Regions from separate parts of the Homo sapiens genome. Here region 2 is linked to region 1. Evidence: fine-mapped expression QTL. A gene starts in region 1. The other region holds a variant in brackets. All regions are shown on one strand. Distances are between the middles of the regions. Region 1 holds the start of ANXA9 (annexin A9). Region 2 overlaps MRPS21 (mitochondrial ribosomal protein S21).

Region 1 (10,576 bases):
AGGACAGCAATGCTCCCTGCTCCAGCGTGTCTCCTTGCCTGGTGAACGTGACTCCCTTCCTTGCAGGTCAGTCCTCCTCACCTTGGCCAGGGCCAACAGCAGGTCCTGCAAGATGCCACTGGTCTCAGATGTGATGTCATCCACAGCCTCCACCTGGAAATCTGGGGTGGGGTGAGGAGCTCTCTGAATCCTCCTGAGTTTTCCTAGTGTAGATATCCCCAGGACCTGCCAAATGCCTGACCCGCTATACCCTGCCAGCCCTGCTAGCCCCTGCTTGGAGTAGCTTGATGGCTGCTAATTCCCAGGATGTAAGGCACAAGTACCATCACGGCCACTCTAAAAACATCTCTAAGTTGTGAGGTGTGCAGTGGCTTCATCACCAAGCACCAACCTGCTGGGCAGGAGGCAACCATTATTAGAGTTGGGGCCAGGCAGTGAAGAAGAGCTAGGGAAACCCGTATTATAACACAAGATGGTTAGGACCTGGCACCCTCATTGGAGGTAAGGAAAAATGATATGAGAGGTGGGATATGAGGAAGGAAAAGAGCAGGAAAGGGAGAAAAAGAAAGAGAAAAGGGAAACAGATGCAAGAAGGAAGGAAGGTAGGAGAGGGATTAAGAACATAGGCCACGGCCAGGGCGGTGGCTCATGCTTGTAATCCCAGCACTTTCAGAGGCTGAGGCAGGAGATGGCTTGAGCCCAGAAGTTCGAGACCAGCCTGGACAACACAGCGAAACCCCATCTCTACAAAAAATACAAAATTTAGCTGGGCATGGTGGTGGCACACCTGTAGTCCCAGCTACTTAGGAGGCTGAGGTGGGAGGACTGATTGAGCCCAGAAGGGTCAAGGCTGCAGTGAGCCATGATGACATCACTGCACAGCCTAGGCTACAGGGCAAGACCTTGTCTCAAAAGAAGAACATAGGCCAAGATTAGACATCAAAGGAAAATTGGGGAAAGCAAGAAAAAGAGGTAGGGGTGGGGGGAAGGGGTGGTAAGATGAGGATGGGAAAAAGCCACAAATTAGTGGGTGAGACACTTGTAGCCAAGCAAGGCCAGCCATCAGGGACATGAAAGGTGACACCCATGACTCAGAGGGCAGATTCCCACCTTTTCCTCAGGCTGCAGCATGGCTGGGTTCAGCTTGGAATGTGGTGTGATGGCAGGGATGGCAAGGGGCTGGGAAGGTGACATGAGTACCTTTGGGACTGTCACTTTGGAATCTGCCTTGGAGCTCCAGATTAAGATGGTTAATCATTGCTTCTCTCTCTTTATTTGTGTGTGTGTGTGTGTGTGTGTGTGTGTGAGAGAGAGAGAGAGAGAGAGAGACATGCTCTCACTCCTGTCACCCAGGCTGGTGTGCAGTGGCAGTGGCACGATCTCAGCTCACTGCAGCCTCAACTTCCCAAGCTGGGGTGATCCTCCCACCTCAAACTCCTGAGTAGCTGGGACCACAGGCGCACACCACCATGACCAGCTGGTTTTTTTGAATTTTTAGCACAGATGAGGTTTTCCTTTATTGCCTGTGACTGGTCTTGAACTCCTGGGCTCAAGTGACCTGCCCACCTCAGCCTCCCAAAGTGTTGGGGTGACAGGCATGAGTCACCGTACCTGGCCTGCTTCTCTTTTTTTAATGATCACATCTGGGTCTCTCCCCTGAGAGACTGAGGCACTGGTGGGGGCAAGAGGAAAGACCCCAAGGGAATAGAACTTAGGCAGCCAGGTTGCCAGATAGCTCACCTATGGGGAGTACAGGAGAGGAGTGGCCTGTCCTACAGCCCCTTCTCCAGCATCTGGGACCCCTCCCTCTATATTCTTACTGTGTTTGTAGACTGCCAGGCACTCCTGCAGCTGGGGTGGGGTTCGAGTGGCAAGAATTTCAATGGCCACGTCCACAGCAGAATCTGAGGCCTACAAGAAATTGGGAGTCTACTCTCAGACTGGCCGTGTCATTAGGATGGCAGACAGAGGGGCAGACGCTGGCTGCTTCTCCTTCTAAGAAACAATATGGGACGACGAGAGGGGGACTCTCGTCTTGCAAAAGCAAGGCTGACAGCCTTCTCCCTTCCCCAGACACCCCAGCAAGTCTCCCCTCCTGCTACCTTCAGAGCTGTCCTCAATTCCTGGGCGTCAAACTGGGCTGTGGGCTGCAGCAGAGCCATCACAATCCTCTCCAGGTTGCCGGAAAGTGCTGCCTGTAGAGACTTCATCAGGTCCTACAATAAATGGTCCTCACAGCAGAGGGACGGGGGTGAGGGGAAGGGCCCCAGAAGTGTGGGGAGGTTTGGGAAGATTTGGCTGGTTTTCATCTCAGGCCCTGTTTAGCCAGGAAGCAGGGGCTGGCCTCAGCGGCTGTTGCTGTCTCTCGAGTCCTCCAGGGGGTTTCTCACCCCAGTCCACTGCTGTGGGAGGTCAGCATGGCCTCACCTGTTGGGTGCGCTCCTGGAAGTTTCGTGAGATGAGCTGCCTTTGCTCTCTGCTCCGGTTGGTCAGCACGTCCACAATGGCACTGCGGTCCACGCCTGAACCGAGATGAGGGCTGTGCTGTGAGCAGGGTCTTTACATAGTGGGATGTTCCTACTCCTTGGAGGAGGGAAGGCGCTCCAGGAGAGGGCTGGGAAGGAAAGGAGCAGGGGCTATATCACCCCCACTTCCATTTTATCTCAAAAGAAGTTGCAAATAAAATGTCAAAACAGCATGCAAATCTGACCCAGACCAAGGCAAAGGTGGCCTGGTGTGGTGGTTAAAAAAAAATACGACTTGGGGGGATCGGCTGACCTAGATGAGAATACCACCTCCGTCATGAGCTGAGTGACCTTGGGCAAGCCTCTTAATCTCCCTGAGCCCCAGTTTCCTCATCTGGAAAATGGAAATAATAAGCCTTGCCTCACAGGGGTGTTGTGAGAATGGGTTTGACACACCTACTGTGGCGCCTGACATACAAGAATGAAGGCATTCCACAAACATTTCTCCAACATCACTAGTTCCTCCTTCCTGGCTCCTCCTTGGTCTACAGATTGGCTCTAAAAGGCAGTCTCAAGTGCCGGGGGAAAGGGGCTCACCTTGGCCAGTAATGGCCCTCAGTAGCCTCTGCGCATCCTTGTCCACGCTGAAGTTCAAGAAGGTCCTGAGGGTGCCCAGGGTCCCCCACGCTGCAGTCTGTGGGAGCACAGGGTAGTTGGCAAGGGCCAGGGCCAGGCTGCCTACACCTCCTCAGCATAACCTCAGGGCCTGTCCTCCACTTTCCTGCCTCCCATCCTCTCACAGCCCGAGCTGAGATACTAAAAGTGATCTCTAAAATCCCAACAGCCCCTACCTTGCTGGCCAGGCCCAGGTGGCTGAGGATCTCCTGGGTGAGGGACGGTGCCATCTTCCCGCCAGTCACAGACATGGTGCTACTGGTTGCCCTGGGGAAGGAAACAGGAGCCCACAGAGCTGAATTTCCTGGCCCTTCAGGGACTCCTTATGACCCCCCCGAGACCCTGGACCCTGGGTTCCAGTCACCTGTTCCTTTCCTTGCTGCAGAAAAAAAGATCAACCTGCTTAGGCTTGGAGCCAGAAATGGAGCTGAAATGGTGAGGTAAGAGGGGAGCCCCCACCTTCCCCACCTCTCCCCACTCCTTTAGGAAGTGGGGATTGATGCGGAATGCTCCTGGACCAGGCGCCAACCCTCCCTGATGCCAGGGTCAGCACCAAAGCTCCTCAGGCCTTGGTCCGCGGTAGATGCCTCCCTTCTGAGGTCTATGGCCCTCCTTCCTGGGCCTGGCTGGGGTCTCCTGGGCAGTGCAGGGGAGCTGAGGTGAGGTGGCAGGATTAACCACGCAGAGTGGAAGACAACTCGAAATAGCATCTTCCCCCACCGGCAGCCCCAGCTGACAAGCAACCCTCAATTCCTGCCTGTACAGCTGCCTACCTGCTCAGCAGCACAGGAGCACAGGCCGGAATCTCTAGGTCAGCAGGTGCAATCTCTTAGCTGATGTGAGCAAGAGTTCTTGCAAGTACGTGGATGCCTGGACAGAAAGGAGGCACTCTCATGTTGGAAAAGGAAAACTCATTTTTCCCTCCCCCAAGCAATCAACAAGCCCTCCTGGCATGGGGCCGTGGGCCCAGTACTTACTCAGAGGTGCCAGAGGTGAGGTGGGTGTCGTTGTTGTGGCCTGGTAGCTTGCCTGTGTGAGCACTGCCTCCGGTGTGGCCTGGTAGAGGAAAGTGGGGGTGTGTGCAGCCTAGGCTGAACAGCCAGTCAGATGACCTCTCTTAGGGACGAACCCAGCAGTTGTCTGACTCTGGCCCCTCCCAGACGTGGGAGAGGACCGGGCTGTACAGAGTCCCACATGCAGACACCTTCCTGCCCAGCATCTCTTCTCCCAGGAACTGGGCCTCAATCCATGTGAGTGAACTCCACTCAGCCTCTCAGCGGCTCAGCCTCAAACACAGGAGGCTTTTATGCACTGCCTTCCCTGTGGGTCCAGGTGGGACCACAGAGACCTAGTCTCAAAGTCCAGCTTCTGACCTGGCTCTGCCCCAGCTTCTGACCTGGCTCTGCCTCTGGCTCCAGCTCCCTGGGGGGCAGGTCAGACAGGCTGCAGGCTGATTTCAAGGCTGATAGGGAAAAACCTGTTGGGGCACATACCAGCAGGGCACCCCAGCCTGCACCCCAGAGGGGGTCCCAGCCCAGAAACTCCCTTGACTGCTGCCTTACTAGAGCCAGCTGACCTAGGTGGAGAGTGCCCAGGGATTGTGTATATCTGTGGAGAAGGAAGGGCACAAGTATTTGGGAGTGGAAGTTGATGAACAGAGTCAAGAGAGAAAAATGCAAAGGGTGTTACCTTCAGAGGGAAGCTCTATGCTCCCAAAAGGCAACAGGGAGATGGGGGAGGCTCCCTTGCCTGGTTTCTTAGATTGCTTCTGTTGCCTTTTGGCAGCCTGGGCCCTGTGGCTGTTTTAGCTGCAGGTGATGCAACCCCAGCAGCTGGACTTGAGGCTGTCTCTGCACAGAGCAGCAGGTGAACAGCCCTGTGGAGCCCCCGCCCCGCCATGCAGCAACTGCTCCAGCCTCACAGCTGGCTCCCTCAGGTCTAAACACAGCCTCTTTCCTGCCTCCCTGGAGAGCCTGGGTAGGGGCGGGGCACAGAAGCTACAGCCCTGCCTCCACTCACTCCTCTGCCTCTCTCCCAACTCAGGAAGGCCTTCACTGGCATTCCTACATCCCTGGAGGAGGGACCTGCAGTGGCTCCACCACACTGAGTAGACCATGCCGGAGGACACGCCATGAAAGGATATTTCTGTGGCGGTAATCACTGCTCCTCACTTTTCTCTCCTGTTAAAAGGAAAACATGCACCTGTGTCAGAACTGGAGAATGAGGGTTCAATATCCAGCTCTGCCACCTATGTTCTGTAAGCTTCGCTAGTCCTTTCAGCTCTCTAAATGGGAGGATTGAGAGAGACGGAGGCTGTGGGACATGCTGGGGCCTCCGAGGACAGGTTTCCTGGGATGATTAAATGAAGTAATGTGTCCACTAAAGAACTTATCCATGTAACCAAACACCACCTTGTCCCCAAAAACTATTGAACTCATAAAAATAAATAAATAAATAAATAAATAAATAAGGTAATGTGGCCAGGCACGGTGGCTCATGCCTGTAATCCCAGCACTTTGTGAGGCCGAGGCGGGTGGATCATGAGGCAGGAGATCGAGACCAGCCTTGGCTTACACAGTGAAACCCCGTCTCTACTAAAAATACAAAAAATTAGCCGGGCATGGCGGCGCATGCCTGTAATCCCAGCTACTCGGGAGGCTGAGGCAGGAGAATCACTTGAACCTGGGAGGCAGAGGTTGCAGTGAGCTGAGATGGCGCCACTGCACTCCACAGCCTGGGCGACAGAGTGAGACTCCGTCTCAAAAAAAAAAAAAAAAAAAAAAAGTAATCTGTGTAATTGCATGTGGCAGAGAAAAGTGCCCTGTAAAGTAGGGGTATTAGATTAAATAAATAAATATACAGGACATGCAGCTTAATCAGAATTTCACGTAAATGAGGAATCATTTGTTGGTACAAGTATGACCCAAATATTTCATTAAATATACTAACATTTTTTTTTTTGAGGCGGAGTCTCTCTCTGTTGCCCAGGCTGGAGTGCAGTGGCATTATGTTGGCTCACTGCAAGCTCCACCTCCCGGGTTCAAGCGATTCTCCTGCCTCCGCCTCCCGAGTAGCTGGGATTATAGGCGCCTGCCATCATGCCTGGCTAATTTTTTGTATTCTTAGTAGAGATAGGGTTTCACCATGTTGGCCAGGCTGGTCTCGAACTCCTGACCTCGTGATCCACCTGCCTTGGACTCCCAAAGTGCTGGGATTACAGGCGTGAGCCACCGCCTGTAATTATTATTTTTTGTTTATCTGAAATTATAGTTTAACAGTGTGTCCTGTATTTCACCTGACAACCCCAAAATGGAACTCAGTCTCAGCGTGGTGGCTAAAAGCAAAGCTTCTGGAGCCAGACTTCTCAGAGTCGGGATTCTGGTCTTCTGTGTGACCTTGGGCAACTATTCTGTGCTCAGTTTCCTCATCATCAACAGACAAGTAATAGTGTTTATGTTATAGGTTGTTGTGAGAATTAAATAACTACAGTGCATATAAAGCACTTAGAAGAGTTCTGGGCACAGCGCTGTTAAGTAGAAATGTCACAATGTTATCAAATATATAACGATAAGTATTGTTATATGGTAACTGTTACTGTTGTTATTACTTACCTCCTTAAGAATTCCGATCTTGGCTCGCTTCTGAAACTTTTCTGGCCAATCCCCAAAATGGCCACAAGAGGGCGTCAGCAGCCACTGAGAGTCTCGAGCCCCCTAGTGGCCCCTTGAGGTCTCTGGCTCCAGCCCCACATATTAAGGGGCTGTCTCAGCCCACTTGGGAAGTGCAGCCTCCTGAGGACGCCAGGTTCCTGGGTGGAATTGGTATGCAGGTAGCATCAGGGGAAGAGCCTCAGGTAGATACCTACTCAGGGGAGCCCCCGAGGCTGACCTCAGACACATGCAGGAGACTGGGTGACCGCAGTTAGGCTGGGTAAACACGGTACTGCAGCTCCGCAGCCGGGGTCCCCCTGGCCCTCGGCTTTCTGTACCCTTCAGAGTTTCTTCTGGCTACCTGCCCAGCAGATTTAGGGAGAACCGAAGGAAGCGTGAGGCCTCCTGTTTCCTCACGCCGAATCTCTCCAAGGGGCTCCTGGCCGGCATGCCAGGCTGAACTCTGAATTTGGAGAAGTCCAACAGAGTCTCAGTCACATGGCAGAAGCGAAGTCCTTGCCTGTGAGGAGTGTGTGTGTGATGCGTTCACAATCGCTGCATTGAAACCTGCTACAAACTCATTCCTCTCCCTAGGTTTTGTTTTGTTCAACTTCAGGGCCGGATTGCAGTTGTTTACAGTTGTACTGATCACCTTCCTTCCCCATGTTGTACATTTTAGAATTGCAGAGTTGGAGGAAATCTTAGAGAGGATCTAATCTACCACCTTTTCTTTTCTTTTTTTTGAGACAGAGTCTCACTCTGTTGCCCAGGTTAGAGTGCAATGGCGCGATCTCGGCTCATTGCAACCTCCGACTCCCTGGTTCAAGCAATTCTCCTGCCTCAACCTCCTGAGTAGCTGGGATTACAGGCATGCACCACCATGCCCAGCTAATTTTTGTATTTTTAGTAGAGACAGTGTTTCACCATGTTGGCCAGGCTGGTCTTGAACTCCTGACCTTGTGATCCGCCCACCTCGGCCTCCCAAAGTGTTGGGATTACAGGCATGAGCCACTGCGCCCAGCCTCTAATCTACTACCTTTTCATTACTGACTCAAGGAGTCTGAGTGACTTCCCGAGGCCATGGAGTTGGAACTAGCATCCATGTTTCTCAGCTGCCTCTCAGTGTTTTCTTCATCCCTCAATGCAGGCGAGGCAGATTTGGGCTCCCTCTCAGTGGAATACAGGGGAAAGGCAGCCACATACACCGCCTCCACTGTTCATGCATGTCCACCTCTTCAGCCTCCAAGTCCCACATTGCTTTTATTTATTTATTTATTGAGACCGAGTCTTACTCTGTCACCCAGGCTGGAGTGCAGTGGTGTGATCTCAGCTCACTGTAACCTCTGCCTCCCAGGTTCAAGTGATTCTCCTTCCTCAGCCTCCCGAGTAGCTGGGATTACAGGGCCCACCACCACACCCAGCTAATTTTTGTATTTTTAGTAGAGACAGGGTTTCACCATGTTGGCCAGGCTGGTCCCAAACTCTTGACCTCAGGTTATCCGCCCACCTCGGCCTCCCAAAGTGCTGGAATTATAGGCATGAATCACTGCACCCAGCCTTTTATTTATTTTTGAGATGGAGTCTCACTCTGTTGCCAGGCTGGAGGGCAGTGGCATGATCTCGGCTCACTGCAACCTCACCCTCCTAGGTTCAAGCAATTCTCCTGCCTCAGCCTCCAAAGTAGCTGGAACTACAGGCATGTGCCACCATGCCTAGCTAACTTTTGTATTTTTAGTAGAGATGAGGTTTCACCATGTTGGGCAGGCTGGTCTTGAACTCCTGACCGCAGGTGATCCACCCACCTCGGCCTCCCAAAGTGTTGGGATTACAGGCATAAGCCACCACGCCTGGTCCCTACATTGCTTTTCTGCAAATACTTTCCATTGCCTGATTTCAGAATACATAGAAACTCCTCTTGGCTATTTTACCTCTCTGTTAGGAAATGTTTCCTCCCCGATACTCCTGGCCCCTGAATCTCCATTAGGTACTAGCTAGGCTCTGCTTCTTACCCAAATAGGCTTCAGTGTTAACAGTTCCACCTGACCTGAAAAAACCTACCTTCCACATTTGGGCTCCCTGTATGCTTGCCCATCCACAAAGCCTGCCCAGATATCTAAACTCGGGGCTGAAGGCCTGGAGATGGCCTGTCCTCTCCTTGGGACAGTTCAGCAGCCCATACAGAGGAAGTGAGTCACTGCAAGGCAGGCAGCACTTGGGGCACTGTGGGCGTGGCCATGCCAGCCTGCGTGTTGGGGGATGGGTTGGAAGGGTGGTGATCACAGTCTCCGGTCCAGCCAAGGCAAGCGGTGTGTATGCTCCCCAAGCGTGCTGACAAAGCTGGTCGCATCATCCCGGTGCTGGCTGAGGCCCAGTTTCCCCTTCTCCATCCACCTTCTCTTTTGTCTCCTGGGGGAGGAATATACCCTCTTATCTTTATTTCTCAGGCCCTGGTTATCCAACTTCTGCCCCAGAACTTCCCCTCCCCACTGCTATCTTAAAAAAAAGAAAAAAAAGTTAACCAGTCTTCAGTTCTCCTGAGGAAGCATTTGAAAAGTCTGGTAGGGACTACAGGAAAGCCTGGCACTTAGGAAAACCACAAGAAAGGGATTCAGAACTAAAAGAAGGAAGATGAATAGGACGGAGGTGTGGAGAGTGTTAGAGACCCGAAGGTGAGCTGCGGCCCAAAGAGCCCTGGAACTATGCTGGAAAAAAGGTGTGTAGGTGTGTAGCAGATAAGGACTCTGGGGAGAGCACTGAAGAAAGGAAGAGGGAACTTTGGAATTAGAAGGCTGAAGGAGGAGAGTTCCAAGGGGGTAGAAAGAGACAATTGGGATGCAAGGTGGCTCATGCTTGTAATCCCAGCACTTTGAAAGGCCAAGGCGGGTGGATGGTTTGAGCTCAGGAGTTCACGACCAGCGTGAGCGACATGGTGAAATCTCAAAAATACAAAAATTAGCCGGGCATGGTGGCGTCGCCTGTGGTCCCTGCTACTTGGGAGGCTGAGGTGGAGGATAGCTTGAGCCTGGAAGGTCGAGGCTGCAGTGACAGAGTGAGACCTCCTCTCCAAAGGAAAAAAAAAAAAAAGAAAGGAAAGAAAGATACAATGGAAGATATGCTAATAAGGGAGGGAGGAGAAAAACACAGCTGGAGGGGTTGCTGGAAACTGGGAGATCAGGCAGGCCTGGGGCTTAGAAAAGCCTAGAGAAACCCTGGGAGCTGGTTAGGGGCCACCACTCTCATCTTTCCCATGGTGTGTCAGGGCTGCGGGTCCCCCTGAAAAGAGAGGCAGAACAAACAGTTGGGTCGGACAGCCTCTACCTCCTTACCCTCCAGAAAGGGCCTGAGATGAGGGATGGGCCCTCCAACTGGATTAGTGGGGGTTGCACTCCTTCCTACGAGTACTTGACCAGATAAACGGGGAAACAAGCTACTGTCAGAGGCTCTGATTGCAACAGCATAAAAAAGGCAATACTTCATCTAGGTGAGAAATTTGACAAAAGTACCTCTCCATGGAGTAAGCTGCAGCTCTCCCTGTATAGGAGCCCTCAAATACATCTTAGTCACCACTCGTTCACGTTAGGAGTTAAGACCAGCTTTCTAGGAAAACCATGTTGCATCTTCCAACAGTAATTACTTCTGAAACAGTAATTTTACCACACGACTCAAGGGGAAAACTTTTTTTTTTTAAATTTATAAAGGAGTTGGGGGTCTCGCTATGTTGACCAGGCTGGTCTTGAACTCTGACCTCAAGTGATCTGCCCACCTCGGCCACCCAAAGTGCTGAGA
Region 2 (11,733 bases), 680 kb after region 1:
GCCTGTAGTCCCCTCTACTCAGGAGGCTGAGGTGGGAGGATCAATTGAACCTGGGAGTTCATGGCTGCAGTGAGCTGAGATCCTACCACTGCATTCCAGCCTGGACAACAGAGTGACACCTTGACTCAAAGGAAAAAAAAAAAAAAAAAAAAAAGGACTGGGCACAGTGACTCATGCCTGTAATCCTAGCACTTCGGGAAGCCGAGGCAGGTGGATCACCTGAGGTCGGGAGTTCGAGACCAGCCTGACCAATATGGTGAAACCCCGTCTCTACTAAAAATACAAAAATTAGCTGGGCATGATGGCGGGCGCCTATAGTCCCTCCCAGCTACTCAGGAGGCAGGCAGGAGAAGTGTTTGAACCTAGGAGGTGGAGGTTGCAGTGAGCTGAGATTGCACCACTGCACTCCAGCCTGGGCAACAGAGTGAGACTCTTGTCTCAAAAAAAAAAAATTGGGGAAATAAAAAAGCAATTAATTACATGGCCCTTGCTCTTGGAGAGTTTATAGTCAAAGTTATGTTCTCAAATCTACTCTACCACAACACACCTGAGGGATATGATACAGTACCTGAAGAACATGTCTCCCTACAGCAATGATTCTCAACTAATGGGGCATTTCAGAGACCTCAACTGGGGAGAGCCATTTTCAGTAAGAACAGAATCACTAGGGGTGATTCTTAAGGTGATTCTCTTACTTAAAGTTCCATCCTGTCAGGCTGGTGGCTCACACCTGTAATTCCAGCACTGTGGGAGGCCGAGGTGGGCGGATCACCTGAGGTCAGGAGTTTGAGACCAGCCTGACCAACATGGAGAAACCCTGTCTCTACTAAAAATACAAAATTAGCCGGGCATGGTGGTGTATGCCTGTAATCCCAGCTACTCGGAAGGCTGAGGCAGGAGAATTGCTTGAACCCTGGGGGCGGAGATTGCAGTAAGCCAAGGTTGCGCCACTGCACTCCAGCCTGGGCAACAAGAGTGAAACTCCATCTCAAAAAGATCACTTGAGGTCAGGAGTTCAAGACCAGGCTGGCCAACATGGTGAAACCCCACCTCTACTAAAAATACAAAAATTAGCCAGGCGTAGTGGTGGGCACCTGTACTCAGTAGGCTGAGGCAGGAGAATCCCTTGAACTCGGGGTGGAGGCTGTAGTGAGCCGAGATGGTGCCACTGCACTCCAGCCTGGGCAACAGACTCTTGTCTCAAGGAAAAACAAAACAAAAACAAACTCACAGGAGGCATTAAACCTGAACTTGAGAACAAGAAAGTGGTTGTGAAGGGATCCTAAAGAACAACTCATCTGAAATGTGAATAAGTAGGTTGCCCTATTTCCACTCTCTTTTCCTACACCAATTATTGCCCTAAAACATAAATCAGATCATGTCACTCTGGTGCTAAAAAATCTTTCCTAATATACAGAGTGGCCTAAGCCACTAAAGTTCCCAGAATCATCTGCACATCAGAACTGCCCAGGGATCTTTTAAACATTCCGAACCCTGGGCCACACCCAGTCCAATTAAATCACAAAGGAGAGGGAAAGGGACATGAGCAGGTTTTTCAGTTTCCAAGGTGATTCCAATGTACAGACAGATTTTGGAACTACTAGTCTAAGCTCAAAGCCCAAACAATTGCCCCCTATATATATATCTTTTAATAACCTGCCCTACTGATCACTTGAGGTCAGGAGTTCGAGACAAGCCTGGCCAACATGGTGAAACCCCATCTCTACTAAAAATACAAAAATTAGCTGGGCATGGTGGTGCCCACCTGTAATCCCAGCTACTCGGGAAGCGGAGGCAGGAGAATAGCTTGAACCTGGGAGGTGGAGGTTGCAATGAGCCGAGATCAAGGCACTGCACTCCAGCTGGGCAAAAGATGGAGACTCCATCTCAAAAAACAAAAACAAAACACGTGCCCTATAATGCCTATGCTCTAGTCACACTTAAGTATATGCAGTTCTCCAAGCATCCTACATACTTGTTTTTTTCTTTGCTCATGATGTTCCCTTTACTTGGAATATCATTCTTTTCTTTTTCTTCCTGATGAAATCCTACTTGTTCCTCAAAGGCCCAAATCAATTGTTATCACATCTGTAAACTAGTTCAGGTGAAATCAAACTTTGGCATGCAGTAGTCATCTGGAAAGCTTGTTAAAACAGGGATTGCTGGCTGGCCATGGTGGCTCACACCTGTAATCCCAGGACTTTGGGAGGCCGAGCTGGGAGGATCACTTGAGCCCAGGAGTTTGACACTAGCCTGAGCAACATAGTGAGAACCCCATCTCCACAAAAAATAAAAATTAACCAGACATGGTGGCACACACACCTGCACTCCCAGCTACTTGGGAGGCTGACATGGGAGAATGGGAGAAATGCTTTATCCCAGGAGGTTGAGACTGCAGTGAGCCATGATTGTGGCACTGCACTCCAGCCTGGGCAAGCAAGACCCTATTTCTTTCTTTCTTTTGAGACGGAGTTGCGCACTTGTTGCCCAGGCTGGAGTGCAATGGCGCAATCTTGGCTCACTGCAACCTCCGCCTTCTGGGTTCAAGCGATTCTCCTGCCTCAGCTTCCCAAGTAGCCGGAATTACAAGCACCAGCTAATTTTTGTTATTTTTAGTAGACATAAGGTTTCGCCATGTTGGCAGGCTGGTCTCGAACTCCTGACCTCAGGTGATCCACCCGCCTCAGCCTCCCAAAGTGCTGGGATTACAGGCATGAGCCACCGCAACCGGCCTTTTTTTTTTTTTTGAGACAGAGTCTCGCTCTGTTGCCCAGGCAGGAGTTGCAGTGGCACGATCTCGGCTCACTGCAACCTCCGCCTCCCAGGTTCAAGAGATTCTCTTGCCTCAGGCTCCCGAGTAGCTGGGACTACAGACACGCACCACCACGCCCAGCTAATTTTTGTATTTTTAGTAGAGACGGAGTTTCACCATATTGGTCAGGCTGGTCTTGAACTTCTGACCTCATGATCTGCCTGCCTTGGCCTCCCAAAGTGCTGGGATTACAGGCATGAGCCACTGCGCTTGGCTGTGAAACCCTATTTCAAAGAACACCACAGATTGCTGTGCCACAGTTTCTGATTCTGTAGGCCTAGAGTAGGGGCCAAGAATTTGCATTTCTAACAATTCCCAGCTGATATTGCTGCTGATGGTCCAGGGACAACCAACACCATGGCACCATTTTTTTTTTTTTGTAGGCAGGGCCTCGCTCTGTTGCCCAGGCTGGAGTGCAGTGTCACCATCTTGGCTCACTGCAGCCTCAACCTCTCAGGTTCAAGCAATTCTCCCGCCTCAGCCTCCTGAGTAGCTGGGATTACAGGGGCGTACCACCACACCTGGATAATTTTTGCATTTTTAGTAGAGACAGGGTTTCACCATGTTGGCCAGGCTGGTCTCAAACTCCTGACCTCAGGTGATCCACCCACCTCGGCCTCCCAAAGTGCTGGGATTGCAGGCGTGAGCCACCACGCCCGGCTGATGTCTCTTTTATAGCACTGATCAAACAGTATTACATTGAACCCCTCATTGGGTTGTGTCTTTTCTAAGGTTAGAGATCAAATCTGTATTCACTTTTGCACCTAACAAAATACTTGGCAAAGAACAACTAGGAAATGTATGCCAAAAATGAGTCCTCTAGATGACTAATAAATGTCCATAGCACAAGGGATTAAGTGACCTTACAATATATACAGTTATTGGGGATATAGCTCAGAAAGCCTCAATAGTATTACCTTTACTACGATGGCATATTAGAGTTTAGATAGCATTTTTATATCCATCATCCTAACTACACTCCTATGAAATTGTTTAGGCAAATAATGTCCTCTTTTTATAGATGAGGAAACTGAAGTTCAGAGAGGCTGACCCGCCCAAGATCACAAAATGGAACTATAAACAGAATTCAGGTCTTTAGTAAAGTGCTCTACAACAGTATTCTGCTTCTCAAACAAAAACCACCCATTTCAGAAGACAAACTGTTGCAGTATCCATGGGTAAAAGAGGGAGTGAAGAGCTGGGCTAGACTCTTCAATCAGAGTAAAGAGGAAATGGAAGCCGATAAGGGACACTTGGATAAAAGAATGATCTAAACATGTAAACATTTATTTCTGCTGAGACTTTGTGTTTAATACTGTCTAATGAAGGTTGCTTTTTGGACTAGAAAGTAGTATATTGGAGAAAATATAGAAAAAAGCCCCTGAAAGAAAAAGATTGGATATATAATGTAAAAAGTACAAGGAGACTGGATTTGAGAGAATATAAAAACGACAGAGACCCTGAGTAAATATGACCTAGGAAGACGAACCTATTGGAATGACAAAGACAGTTTAAAAGTAGGATGAAACAACACTGCAAGAGGAGGAAGGGGTTGAGTATGACTCAAGGAACCCTACTGGAGTTCCAAAAGGCTTCTAAAACAAAGGTGATCATCTTACCAAGGAAATGCCTGTACTGTCAGGCAAAAGGGCAAGACAAGGAAAAAGAATAACAAAAGAACATAAGAATGGTGAAGGGAAAAGAAAGAATATAATGATGGGGGTTGGTAAATGGCATTCCCTGGATGTACTACTTACTTCCAAAACACAGACCAAATAAATTCCAAGATGCCAGGTGAGGATTCCCTCCCTTACCCGACACGTTCTAGTCATACTAAAAAAGGCACAGATTATCTTCAAATGCCCCAGAGTCCCTATAGTAGAGGTATCTACTCAACTTTACCTCTAACAGAAAAGGATGCAAGAAAAGCTTTGTAAAACACAAGAATAGAGGGGGTGTTACTAATGATGCTTCCTTCTGCTTCCAAAAGTAGTTCAAGGACTAGTACATCAAGAGCTTTAGAGTAAACAGATCAGCCTGGAGTTCGGGCGCCTGGCAACCTAATACTGAAGGAGAAACCAGCTGCCAGTTTTAGTGAAATTCAAATGATTATGTAAAAGGAGCCAAGCTGCCTGGAGCGGGGGGAGGTGCGGGTGGCAGACTCACATGTCAGTGTAGCCAGTCTACGTCAGGACAGACGTGTATGCAGAAGGACTCAATGGACCCAGAAGGTAGCCCACTAGGAGTAAAAGGAGTCAACAGGGCATGCTTCCAGTGTACTCACCTTTCTTTGCTTGGGGGCCAGCCAATCATGCAGGGCTTCCTAGCAACCCCCACTCTCCACCTTCTCATCCCGGGGCACCAATGAGGGCCCCCAGTTATATAACAGGCATTTTGTGGTGGCCTCACTGGACAGACACGTAGGCTATTTCCTTTGTAAGACTCTCTCTGTACTCCAAACATGGTAAAGCTTTAATCACCTCCCTCTAGACTCATTTGCTCTCCTACCTATTGTTGTAATTAGACCACAGAACAAGCAAATTATTTTTAAACTACCAGCTATGAGAAAGCTGAAAGAGATCAGGAGAGGCCTGGAGTGTGAGAAAGATATACAGAAAAAGTGGCTAGAGAGAGGACATTTGGGAAAAGCAGAGAAAAAGAAGAAACAGAAAAGTGCATCAGTCAGAAAATGTGTTTAACAGGCAGCAGGAAAACAGAAGATTGGATCACTCCAAAATCAGTCTGCTCACGTATGCAAGCTTGAAAGTCCTTACCTAGAAAATTATTCTAAGAGGCCGGGCACGGTGGCTCACCCCTGTAATCCCAGCGCTTTGGGAGGCCGGGCGGGCCAATCATGAGGTCAGGAGTTTGAGACCAGCCTGGCCAACATCGTGAAACCCCGTCTCTACTACAAAAAATTAGCCGGACGTGGTGGCAGGTGCCTGTAATCCCAGCTACTCGGGAGGCTGAGGCAGGAGAATCACTTGAACCCGGGAGACAGAGGTTGCAGTGAGGCGAGACCACGCAGTCTGGGCAACAGAGAGAGACTCCGTATTAAAAAAAAAAGAAAGGAAAAAGAAAATTATTCTAAGACTGAAATATTTGTTCATTTCCCCCCTGCCCCGCGAAGCTATAATACAATTTATGGGACTCTGAGTCTATGGGACTTGAATTTCTTTTCCTTTTTTGAGACGAAGTCTCGCTCTCGTCCCCCAGGCTGGAGTGCAATGAATGGCGCGATCTCGGCTCACTGGAACCTCCGCCTCCTGGGTTCAAGCGATTCTCCTGCCTCAGCCTCCTGAGTAGCTGGGATTACAGGCACCTGCCACCATGTCCGGCTAATTTTTTTTCTTTTGAGACGAAGTCTCGCTCTCGTCCCCCAGGTTGGAGTGCAATGGCGCCATCTTGGCTCACTGCAAGCTCCGCCTCCCGGGTTCACGTCATTCTCCTGCCTCAGCCTCCCGAGTAGCTGGGACTATAGGCGCCCGCCACGGCGCCCAGCTAATTTTTTGTATTTTTAGTAGAGACGGGGTTTCACTGTGTTAGCCAGGATGGTCTCGATCTCCTGACCTCGTGATCCGCCCCCCTCAGCCTCCCAAAGTGCTGGGATTACAGGCATGAGCCACCGCGCCCGGCCAATTTTTGTATTTTTTTTAGTAGAG[A/T]CAGGGTTTCATCATGTTGGCCAGGCTGGTCTTGAACTCCTGACCTCAGATGATCCACCCGCCTCGGCCTCCCAAAGTGCTGAGCTTACAGGGGTGAGCCACCGCGCCTGGCCAAATTTATTTTTCTAACCACTCCTCTTCTTTCTTAAAAAGAAAAGAATATAATTCTTTTCTTTTTAAGCAATGTAAATTGCTTTTTTCCAAATCCTACTCCTACTTTGGTGTTTTAATCCCTGAAGAAAAGGTAATACTGTGCTTCTTAACCAGGGTAATTAACAGAATGCCAAAGGATACAAGTTTCTGGACAAATTTGATGCATCTGCCTGGAGGCACCAATTTTAACTCGAAGGAGTGGGGGTGTTACCCATAAAACAGATGCAATGGCAACGAATACGAAGTTCACCTTACATTTTAATTTAGGGAAGCTTCAAAGAAATTCCATGTTTGCTTATAGTAGCAGAACCCCTATAGTTCATTCACTCTCCTCTGCTGTTAACGACACTTCAGTAAAAAAGTTTGACAAACATTAAATAAGTGACAAAAAAGATAAAGGAACATTTATGTTCATTAAGTAGACATTTAATGAGAGCTTTGGATGTGCCAGACACTTTGGTAAATCCAAGAGATACACAAATGAAAAAGCATAGGTTTCTGTCCTTAAGGAGGCTACAAGCCTTTTTTTTTTTGAGACAGGGTCTCACTTTGTCACCCAGGCTGGAGTGCAGTGGCGCGATCTCGGCTCACTGCAACCTCCAGCTCCCAGGTTCAAGCGATTCTCCTGCCTCAGCCTCCCGAATAGCTGGGATTACAGGTATGCACCATCATACCCGGCTAATTTTTATATTTTTAGTAGAGACGGGGTTTTACCATGTTGGCCAGGCTGGTCTTGAACTCCTAACCTCAAATGATCCGCCCCCCTCAGCCTCCCAAAGTGCTGGGATTACAGGCATGAGTCACTGTGCCCAGCCAGGAGGCTACAAGTCTATTATAATAATTTTCAATCCTGGTGAAATCTCATGGTATGTTTTTTAAAATGCTGCCATCCAGGTTGCAACCCCTGGAGATTCTGATTCATCTCAGATTGGGCCCTGGCATTAGTTTTGTTTTCTTGATGGTTCGTTCCCTAGGTGATCCTAATAGGCAGCCAGGGTTGAAACCACAGGGTGTCACACTGACCACTCTCCGGCTCTCTAATATTAACACTTCGACCCAGGAAATAGGTTTGTGTAAAATGCCAGTCACCAACAAAAAGAGAACCATAAAAGTAGTATGTGGGCTGGGTGTGGTGGCTCACACCTGTAATCCCAGCACTTTGGGAGACAGAGGCGGGTGGATCACCTGAGGTCAGGAGTTCGAGACCAGCCTGGCCAACATGGTGAAACCCCGTCTCTACTAAAAATACCAAAACTAGCCAGGCGTGGTGGCAAGTGCCTGTAATCCCAGCTACACGGGGGGCTGAGGCAGGAGAATCACTTGAACCTGGGAGGCGGAGGTTGCAGTGAGCCGAGATCATGCCACTGCACTCCAGCTTGGGGGACAAGAGCGAGACATCGTCTCAAACAAACAAACAAACAAACAAACAAAAAACAGAAAAAAAAACAGGAAAAGCAAAAACTGAGTGTTGATTAAATTAAAAATATAGTGGCTGGACAAGGATTTTTAAAAGAGGCAGATAAAAAGGGGTATAGACAATCTTAGACAAAGAAATAAGAGTCTTCTCTCAAAAGATAAGAGCTGGCCTTATATTTTCTGCAAACCTGGTATCAGTGAAGAGGATCAGGAAGGAGATTAGAAATATTTTGTTTCTCAGATTCTGTTTCAAATTTTAGGTGTAAATGGGGATGCATTCCATATATGATATGGGGCATCACTGCAGTCTCTGCCTCCCAGGTTCAAGCGGCTCTTCTGCCTCAGCCTACGGAGTAGCTGGGATTACAGACCTGTGCCACCATGCATGGCTAATTTTTGTATTTTTAGTAAAGACGGGGTTTCGCCATGTTGGCCAGGCTAGTCTCGAACTCCTGGCCTCAAGTGATCCACCATTCTTAGCCTCCCAAATTGCTGAGAATACAAGACTGAGGCACTGCACCCAGCCGCTACTCTCTTGATACAACTGTAAGAAGTGGTTCAGCTGGGCATGGTGGCTCACGCCTGTAATCCCAGCACTTTGGGAGGCTGAGGTGGGCAGATCACGAGGTCAGGAGATCGAGACCATTCTGGCTAACATGGTGAAACCCCGTCTCTACTAAAAATACAAAAAATTAGCCGGGGTAGTGGCATGCGCCTGTAGTCCCAGCTACTCGGGAGGCTGAGGCAGGAGAATCGCTTGAACTCGGGAGGCGGAGGTCACAGTGAGCAGAGATTGCGCCACTGCGCTCCAGCCTGGGCGACAGAGGGAGACTCCGTCTCAAAAAAAAAGTGGTTCAATAAATAATACTGTACCACAAATTTTGTTGTTTTTTGTCAAAGTAGCTAATTTTCTAAAAACAAAATTCTTGCTTTTGTGTTATCTATACTTTAGGAATAAGGGAACTAAAACTGAGCCTGTTGGAAATTTGTTTTACCATTAAGCAACAGCTATCCTTTGATCTTTCAATAACAAACATCTCAACAACCATGGCCAGAAGACCTATCTAAATCTACCAAAATAAATCATACAGAAGAAGATTTACAGGGAGAAGTCAGAAAAAAAGAGTGAAGTTACACGTAATACATGCCTTTTCCCAAATTCAACATTCATCTCCCTAGCTAACTCACTGCAGGGTCTGGATGTTACCTATAAAGACGTTCATTTTAGGCCAGGTGCAGTGGCTCAAGCCTGTAATCCCAGCACTTTGGGAGGCCAAGGCGGGTGGATCATGTGAGGTTGGGAGTTAGAGACCAGCCTGACTAACCTGGAGAAACCCCATCTCTAGTAAAAATACAAAATTAGCTGGGCTTGGTGGCGCATGCCTGTAATCCCAGCTACTCAGGAGGCTGAGGCAGGAGAAACGCTTGAACATGGGCGGCAGAGGTTGCGGTGAGCCGAGATGGCACCATTGCACTCCAGCTTGGGCAATAAGAGTGAAACTCTGTCTCAAAAAAAAAAAAGTTCATTTTGTACTTCCAAGATAGCAAAGTAGGGCCAGAGAAAGGTCATTAGACATAATATACTTCTCAGACATGCCACCAGAAGGTATGAAATAGGAGAGTTAGAAATGAGGAGAAACAGAGAAAAATGAAACAGGATACCTTACAACCTGGTACTTATCTTTACTCTCAGCATAGGTGACAATGTAGAGGGAACAGCTTCAGCCCAAGGATATAATTGTTATGCACATAGAATTAAGTGATGTGGCTGACCCCAGACCAGATTTTTTTTTTTGAGTCTTACTCTGTGGCCCAGACTGGAATGCAGTGGCACGATTCTGGCTCACTGCAGCCTCTATTTCCCAGGTTCAAGTGATTCTCCTGCCTCAGCCTCCCAAGTAGCTGAGATTACAGGCGCCTGCCACCACATATGGCTAATTTTGTATTTTTAGTAGAGACAGGGTTTCGCTATGTTGGCCAGGCTGGTATTGAACTCCTGACCTCAGGTGATCCACCCGCCTGAACCTCCCAAAGTGCTGGGATTACAGGCATGAGCCACCACGCCTGACCCTAAGACCAGATCCTTTTAAAAGACATAGAAACCATTCTGAGCCTGCAACTGCTTCTCATTTACACAGCTTCTGACAGCATTTTTTCTTTTTTTTTTTGTAGACAGAGTCTCGCTCTGTTGCCCAGGCTGGAGTGTAGTGGCACGCTCTCGGCTCACTGCAACCTCCTCCTCCCGGGTTCAAGCGATTCTCCTGTCTCAGCCTCCTCAGTAGCTGGGACTACAGGTGTGTGCCACCACGCCCGGCTAATCTTTTGTATTTTTAGTAGAGACGGGGTTTCACCGTGTTAGCCAGGATGGTCTCGATGTCCTGACCTCGTGATCCGCCCGCCTTGGCCTCCCAAAGTGCTGGGATTACAGGCGTGAGCCACCGCGCCCGGCTGACAGCATTTTTTTCCTCACTGTGGTCTTCTGCCATCCAGCCTTCCACACCTAGAACTCTCTGCTTTGCTAAGAACTAGGTTCCCTTTCCTTTGCCCTCTCAGTCCTCAAGAACCCTACCAATATTTAAACCCAATCAGATGAGGATTCTGGTTTTTTTTTTAAAGCGACACCTGCTGAAATGACAAGACAAGGATTCTAAATTGGAAAATGAACCACCATAAGTCTTTCCATTTCTAGTAAGACTAGTAATAATTATTAAAGAACATTGCACTAAAAAGATGTGCTTTAGGCTCCTCTCCACCATTCAATAACTGCATAACCCAATAAAGATAATCTGATCTTCCAAGGCTTCCCTTACTTGTGAAATAAAGCTACCACATTAAAGGCCTTAATGCAGCCCATGCAATATCTTTCCTACATTTTTTTTAAGAGACATGGTCTCACTATGCTTCCTAGGTTAGAGTGGAGTGGTTATTCACAGGCACAACAAGAGTGCACTCACACTACAGTCTTGAACTCCTGGGTTCAAGCAATCCTCTTGCCTCAGCCTCTGGAGCAGCTAGCACTACAGGAGCCCCTTCCTTACAATTCTTTGATAATTCAACTCAACAAGCGTTTGTTTCTCCAAATGTTACTTCACATTGGGGAAAGAAAATGACGCGTGAGTCATACCAGAAAGTCAAAATCCACACAACTGGTGAGAAGGGAAGGTTAAGAACTTTTTGCTTGAGAATTCAGTGGTAAAGTACTACTAGGGCTGGGCCGGATGCAGTGGCTCATGCCTGTAATCCCAGCACTTTGGGAGGCCAAGGCGGGTGGATCACGAGGTCAAGAGATTGAGACCATCTTGGCTAACGTGGTGAAACCCTCTCTACTAAAAATACAAAAATCAGCCAGGCGTGGTGGTGGGCACCTGTAGTCCCAGCTACTCAGGAGACTGAGGCAGAAGAGTCAATTGAACCCAGGAGGCGGAGGCTGCAGTGAGCCGAGACTGCACCACTGCGCTCCAGCCTGGCAACAGAGCAAGACTCCGTTTTAAAAAAAAAAAAAAAAAAGTATTACTAGGGCTCTTCTACATCTCTTAGCCTGGCATTCAAAAATTTTCAATGAAGCTATAAAGCTCCTCCACCCCAGCTAGTTTGTTTCCATTTATGTATTTTTCCTTATGCTGTATCTTTCCTGAAAACTTGTAAGCTTTCCCATCTTTCTTTTTTTCCCTTTCTTCTTAATATTTTTAG

Evidence for each region. PIP is the estimated chance that this variant, and not a neighbour inherited with it, causes the effect.
Region 2: its variant is fine-mapped to the expression of ANXA9 in whole blood (TOPMed, PIP 0.98).

What each region holds. Positions count from the first base shown.
Region 1 is chr1:150,975,921-150,986,496 of GRCh38, reverse strand. ANXA9 (annexin A9) reads right to left here and starts at 4,205. Exons shown (of 14, transcript NM_003568.3): 1 at 4,118-4,205; 2 at 3,914-4,010; 3 at 3,317-3,407; 4 at 3,063-3,159; 5 at 2,428-2,522; 6 at 2,103-2,216; 7 at 1,821-1,911; 8 at 82-161. The coding sequence starts at 3,391. It overlaps LOC105371438 (a long non-coding RNA gene), which reads left to right and starts at 4,992. Exons shown (of 3, transcript XR_922135.3): 1 at 4,992-5,076; 2 at 5,184-5,293; 3 at 6,411-6,539. RefSeq lists enhancers at 2,820-3,681, 8,507-9,008, 9,009-9,512 and a cis regulatory region at 8,739-9,652.
Region 2 is chr1:150,295,770-150,307,502 of GRCh38, reverse strand. The region is part of intron 2 of MRPS21 (mitochondrial ribosomal protein S21); the gene reads right to left. Among named protein-coding and RNA genes, the nearest start is that of MRPS21, 7.8 kb to the right of the region's middle. RefSeq lists an enhancer at 9,904-10,461. The variant A/T (reference allele first, on the strand shown) is at 6,475.